Homo sapiens: one gene and its partner. The protein of the gene in region 2 binds, or shares a complex with, the protein of the main gene of each other region. Each region holds a gene or a part of one and is shown on either strand. Other genes may lie near its edges. The genes, in order: BRD8 and KAT5.

Region 1 (4,019 bases), on a different chromosome or scaffold from region 2:
TGCTTCTTACAGTAAGAATTACTTAAACAACTCTCCTACTTCTGCCCATCTCCATCTTTGTAGCCCTTTGGTGCTAACATACTAGTCATCTCCTCAGGTCTACCCATGTTACTGGTTTGCACAGGACAGGTGCCTCTTCATTGTTTGCCTCCACTACATGGAAAAAATGGAGCGAAAAGCTGCAGATTCAAGCCATCACATTTGGTGCTAACAAAAATTGAAGGACTTGGGCTTCTTTCTGTGACCTCAATAGTCTTGTGTTTTGTGGGACAGGTAGATGATCATCCTGAAGTGCTGGATGTGGCAGCAGTGGAAGCAGCACTGTCATTTTGTGAAGAAAATGATGATCCTCAGTCCCTGCCTGGCCCCTGGGAGCATCCTATCCAGCAGGAGCGGGACAAGCCAGTACCTCTCCCTGCACCAGAAATGACGGTCAAGCAAGAGAGACTGGACTTTGAGGAAACGGAAAACAAGGGAATACATGAACTGGTGGACATCAGGGAGCCCAGTGCAGAGATCAAGGTGGAACCTGCAGAACCAGAGCCAGTCATTTCAGGAGCCGAAATAGTAGCTGGAGTTGTTCCAGCCACAAGTATGGAGCCACCAGAACTCAGGAGTCAGGACTTAGATGAGGAACTGGGAAGTACTGCAGCTGGAGAGATTGTTGAAGCAGATGTTGCCATTGGGAAAGGCGATGAGACTCCACTTACAAATGTGAAGACAGAGGTACTTAAGAAAGATCGGGGCTGGGGAGATGGAGGTTTATACCTTAGATAAGAAGTGACAGCTTAGGCTTTTTGGTTTTCCAGTTGCATTCCTGAGTTCTGACATGTTTGATGTGTCCAAAGCCCATAGGCTGTGATTAGTGTTATATATACTTATTCCTGTTAAGGTGACCATTGGAGTCACATTACATGAGTAGGACTTAGAATTTCTTCTATGGTCTCATTATCACTGAAGAATAAAGTTGTGTGAGCTATAGCGATTTATCAGTACTTAGGGTGTTTTTTCTTTTCTGGTTTTCAGGCATCCCCTGAAAGCATGTTGTCTCCATCACATGGCTCAAATCCCATTGAAGATCCTTTAGAGGCAGAGACTCAGCACAAGTTTGAAATGTCAGGTAAATAAAGTCCTCTTTCACTGACTTGAAATCATTTGCTTTGGCTTCTGAGGGGTTGTGGGTTGTGGGCAAGTAGAGGAGGTAGAACAGGTCAGCATGTAAAGGAGAGCTGCAGGGGATTATGGTCCATAGGAAGGGGAAGGCTAAGGTGGAAAAATCTTCAGGTAGTCTTTCTCTCCTCTGCAGACTCATTGAAAGAAGAATCAGGGACTATTTTTGGAAGCCAGATAAAGGTATTTCAGACTTTTCTTTATTCCTCTTGCCATGTGATTAGATTTCCCTATAGCACTACTTTTTAATGAATTTCAGTAAAGTCACATCTTTATTCTCTGATAAGAGACTGGTATGGAGTTGCATGGGGAAAAGCTGCAGTAGACAGGCATAATGGGAGTACTATAGCAACAGGTGCCTCCCATATGAAACAGCATGTGAATATCACACAGTCCTTAAGAAGGCTTGATACACTTAGAGTGATTTGTAGTGAATAAGGATACCTGAGCCAAGGAGAACATACAGGAATCAAGTTTATTAATTAGACTATCCAAAGAGAATCATCCAGAGTTTTCTTTTTAGAATTATTAAAGCAGCAGTAACAGAGGCTTAAAGAATGTGATGTGAGCTTGCTCCATCAAATGAGACACAAAATAAAAATTATTTTTGATAACTTTGTACCCAGGGTCAGAGTTACTCTCGAGCAAGGGGAAAGAAGGAACGCCTCTTAGCTTAGTCTTAAGTAAGTAGCTTTTTTTTTTCTTTCTTTTTAAAAGATCCTGGGTATTATTCTTTGTCCAGGTTCTAAATTACTTAACGCAGTGTCTGTAAGTAGATGGTAGTATAAGTGATAGACAGCTGAGTCAGGAAACAGCGTGAGGTCATTTCTAGAACTAATTCTAACCCAAAAGACAGATCATGTTTAATGATGCTTTGCTGGATAGCTTTGCTTGCATTTGTTAACTGGAGCATACTGTATCTAAGGATGCCCCAGGTGAGGATGAGGAGGAAGATGGTGTCAGTGAAGCGGCCAGCCTAGAGGAGCCTAAGGAAGAGGATCAAGGAGAAGGCTACTTGTCAGAAATGGATAATGAACCTCCTGTGAGCGAGAGTGATGATGGCTTCAGCATACACAATGCTACACTGCAGTCACACACACTGGCAGACTCCATCCCCAGCAGCCCTGCTTCTTCACAGTTGTGAGTATCTGAGATTCTTTCTTTGAGGCCAAGGCAGTGAAGGTGAGGAGAGGATCTTTTCCTTCCTTCCTTCCTTCCTGTCTTTTCTCTTTTCTTTTCTTTTCCCTTTCCTTTCCTTTCCTTTCCTTCTCTTTTTTCTTGTTCTCACTCACCCATGCTGGAGGGCAGTGGTGCGATCTCAGCTCACTGCAACCTCCACTTCTCAGGCCCAAGCAATCCTTCCACCTCAGCCTCCTTAGTAGCTGGGACTACCAGCCTGTGCCACCACACCCTGCTAATTAAAAAAAATTTTTTTAGTAGAAACCAAGTTTTGCTACATTGCCCAGGCTGGTCTCAAACTCCTGAGCTCAAGCGTTCCACCTGCCTCGGCCTCCCAAAGTGCTGAGATTACAGGCGTGAGACACCATGCCTGGCCTTTTTCTTTATTTTTAAATTTTTATTTTAAAAAAATTTTTTTAAGGGACAGGATCTATGTGGTCCAGTCTGGTCTTGAACTCCTGACCTCAAGCAGTCTTCTTGCCTTGACCTCCCAAAGCAGTAGAATTAGAGGCATGAGCCACCATGCCTGGCCTGATCTTTTCTTTAGTGTTTCCCTTTTTTGACCTGGAATAAACAGCTGACAAGAAATAATTAGGGCTGGGCATAGTGGCTCACACCTGTAATCCCAGCACTTTGGGAGGCTAAGGCAGGAGGATCGCTGGAACCCAGGAGTTCGAGACCAGCCTGGGCAACACAGTGAGACCCTATCTCTACAAAAAAATTAAAAAATTAGCTGGGCATGGTGGTATGCACCTATAGTCCCAGCTACTTGGGAGGCTGAGGTGAGAGGATTGAGTCTGGGAGGTTGAGGGTGCAATGAACATGATCATGCCACTGCACTCCAGCCTGGGGGACAGAGTGAGACCCTGTCTCAAAAAGAAAAGAGAATTATAATTTTTATTTTTTAACTTGTGCCTAGTGGAATTGCTGTATCTCTGTTTCAGCTCTGTCTGTAGTGAGGATCAGGAAGCTATTCAGGCACAGAAAATTTGGAAGAAAGCCATCATGCTTGTATGGAGAGCTGCAGCTAATCATAGGTGAGTGGGCTTTACCAGTCAGTAGGTTCATTTTCTCCTACTCTTCATTGTTGGTGACTGGAAAAAAGTCTGAGTAGGCTTCTGTGGAACTGCTGGTATTAGTTCTTACTACCTTTAGTTACTTAGAGTAAGTTCCCTCCCTGCACTTCTGGAGAATGTCAGTAATTGCACCTTATTCCTTTTGGACAGGTATGCCAATGTCTTCCTGCAGCCTGTTACAGATGACATAGCACCTGGCTACCACAGCATTGTGCAGAGGTGAGCCATGGTCCACCCAGCATGGTAACTTGCCTGAATTATAAATTGTCCAGTCTTAGTGAAGTTTTGCTTTCGATAGAAAGTTTAAAGCAAGTAAGTTTATGGTTTTGCTATAAGGGGCACTGAGTGCTAAACTGATAATTCCAGTGGCTAGATCACCACTGATAGTCTAAAAGAATAAATCTCCACCAGGAGCGGTGGCTCACGCCTGTAATCTTTGGGGGTGCTGAGGTGGGTGAATCACTTGAGCCCAGGAATTCAAGACTAGCCTGGGCAACATGGCGAAACCCCCTCTCTACAGAAAATACAAGACTTAGCCAGGTGTGGTGTCGCGCATTTGTAGTCCCAACTACCTGGGAGGCTGAGGTGGGAAGG
Region 2 (2,527 bases):
CTGAGTTTCTTCAAGCATCCACTTGTGCTACCAGGCTGAGAAGTTCTGAGGATGTGACCCCATCTGGGCATCATTTAACCAATAAAATTTCTCGAATGGACCATAACCTTGATCAGGTAAAGCCTCTGTGTCTTCACCAGGTCAACAGCTAGAACTTCCTCCTTGTTTCTCAGGTCAGAGCTTGGTTATTCCAAGTGAGTGGTGAGACAGACAGAATGGGGGGTGATGGGGAGTAAGAGGCTGGGAAGAAGGGGCCTCAGGGTTGGGGAGGGCACTGAAGAGCCCATGTGTGATGAAGTTCAGAGTCCCTTCTGGCTTTAAGAGACTGACCTCACTGGACACAAGGAGCGAGGGACAACATGCTTATGTCTATCTGCTGACAGCATTTTGGATACCTGCCTGCAAGGCTCAGGGGACAACTGGGGACATTAGCCACTGGTCCTTGCCCCAGTACTCGTATCATGGCACACGTTACCAGATACATCAGCACCAGCGGCTCACTAACCTTCTGCCCATGGCTCCAGGCAGGAGCACGTAAGTCAGATTTGGGGAAAGCTGAGTGGCACTTAGAACCCTGGCCAAGGAGCAAACTGGGGGGCTGAGAACCTACCCCAGATAAGCAGGGCAGTCAGCCTGAACGGAGAGAACCCCGGGAGAGTGCCACTGTTATTTCTGGCTGGTTCCCCTAGAGGCTGGGCTGCACAGCCAGGGTTGAGAATCACAGTAGCCTGGCCCATCTGCCTGTGAGGCACCGATAGTGGGTCCACTACCCCCTGGCCGCAGCACACATACTCACTGAACTCGATCAGCAGCTTGCCGTAGCCCCGGCGCTGGTAGGGAGGCAGGGTTAGGATGCAGGCCACATTGTAGTCTTCCGTTGATTCTTTCTCCTGGAGAAGGGGGACAGGTGAGTGTCAGGGAAGGGATCTGGCTCAGGACAGGGCACAGGGACAGCTTGGGCAGGCACTGACCTTGGAGAAGTAGCCCACGATGTGGAAGCCCTTACAGTCATACTCTGTCATGACGTAGAAGAGGAAAGGGTCTGTGTCATAGTACAGTGTCTTATGGTCAAGGAAACACTTGGCCAAAAGACACAGGTTCTGGGAATAACTCTGCAAGAGAAAAGGCTTGTCACCACTCTGGGTATCCCGCCTTGAGCCTGGCCAGTGGTTCAGGGTCAACCAGGAGCTTCACTGTTCGTGCTATGCCCCAGGCTGCTAGGTGATGAGTGTTCTTCCCTGGCTGGGCCTGACCCACTCCACCAGCCCGCAGCTTAGGCAGGGCTGCTCCTCAGTGTTGAAAAGCCTGTGTGCCAGATGTGTGATGGTGTCTGAGTGCCTCCCTGCTCAGTCAGGCAAGTTTCCCGCCTTGCTCCGCACACCTCCATTCTAAGCCTGACCAGGAGAGACCACTGCCTTTTAATGTTTTTTAACAGCAGCCAACGAACTAATGTGTCCAAAGTGAGACTCTGACCACGGCTCCTCAAACTAATGTGTCCAAAGTGAGACTCTGACCACTGACTCCCTATCTAACAGTCTTGGGAGTCTAGCTGTTAAAAAACCTAACATTCTACATCCACAGTCACACCTCCTGGGAACTGATCTGCTACTCTACAACAGAGTTAAGGAATTCTGGAATTTAACAAAATAACTGCCTTAGGGTTTACCCCAGCAAAATTATGAATCCTGCTGCTTTACTTCTGCACACGATTTCTCCTGCATTTCAGACATTGTGGGTTTTTTTTTTTTTTTTTTGACACAGGGTCTCACTCCTGTCACCCAGGCTGGAGTGCAGTGGTGCAATCATGCAATCGTGGGTCACTGCAGCCTTGACTTCCCAGGCTCAGGTGATTCTCCCAACTCAGCCTCCCGAGTACCTGGGGGTTTCTCCATGTTGCCCAGGCTGGTCTCGAAATTCTGGGCTCAAGTGATTGGCCCACCTTGGCCTCCCAAAGTGCTGGGGTTACAGGTATGAGCCACTGTGCCCAGCCAGAAATTGCTTTTTATTTATTTATTTTTTTTACACGAAGTCTTGCTGTCTCCCAGGCTGGAATGCAGTGGTGCAATCTCGGCTCACTGCAAACTCTGCCTCCTGGGTTCACGCCATTCTCCTGCCTCAGCCTCCCGAGTAGCTGGGATTACAGGCACCCGCCACCACGCCCAGCTAATTTTTTGTACTTTTTAGTAGAGACAGGGTTTAACCGTGTTAGCCAGGATGGTCTCGATCTCCTGACCTTGTGATCCGCCCGCCTCAGCCTCCCAAAGTGCTGGGATTACAGGTGTGAGCCACCGTGCCCAGCCCAGGAATTGCTTTTTAACCGCCTGCTGCTGGGTACTGCCACTTGGATGCCCAGGTCCACATTAATAATTACAAAATGGTGGTTAACACAGCATCTTCATCACCTAAGCTCTGTCCCATGTACGAGCCTTCCCTCATCCTCCCTTTTCTGCCTCCCAACCAGAATGATCTCTGCCTTTCACAAAGACCACCTTTGTGCATCCATGCCTACTCTTCAGAACACCACTGC

The links.
Region 1: KAT5 (region 2) and BRD8 share a complex: the UniProt entries of both Homo sapiens proteins name them as parts of the SWR1-like complex.

Annotation. Positions count from the first base shown.
Region 1 is NC_000005.10:138,161,421-138,165,439, reverse strand, and holds part of BRD8 (bromodomain-containing protein 8), read left to right. Parts: intron 1-273; coding exon 274-726; intron 727-1,026; coding exon 1,027-1,120; intron 1,121-1,306; coding exon 1,307-1,353; intron 1,354-2,095; coding exon 2,096-2,310; intron 2,311-3,293; coding exon 3,294-3,386; intron 3,387-3,575; coding exon 3,576-3,644; intron 3,645-4,019. UniProt on the Homo sapiens protein: May act as a coactivator during transcriptional activation by hormone-activated nuclear receptors (NR). Isoform 2 stimulates transcriptional activation by AR/DHTR, ESR1/NR3A1, RXRA/NR2B1 and THRB/ERBA2.
Region 2 is NC_000011.10:65,715,252-65,717,778, reverse strand, and holds part of KAT5 (histone acetyltransferase KAT5), read right to left. Parts: intron 1,113-2,527; coding exon 972-1,112; intron 891-971; coding exon 797-890; coding exon of another isoform or gene 793-796; intron 107-792; exon of another isoform or gene 1-106. UniProt on the Homo sapiens protein: Catalytic subunit of the NuA4 histone acetyltransferase complex, a multiprotein complex involved in transcriptional activation of select genes principally by acetylation of nucleosomal histones H2A and H4.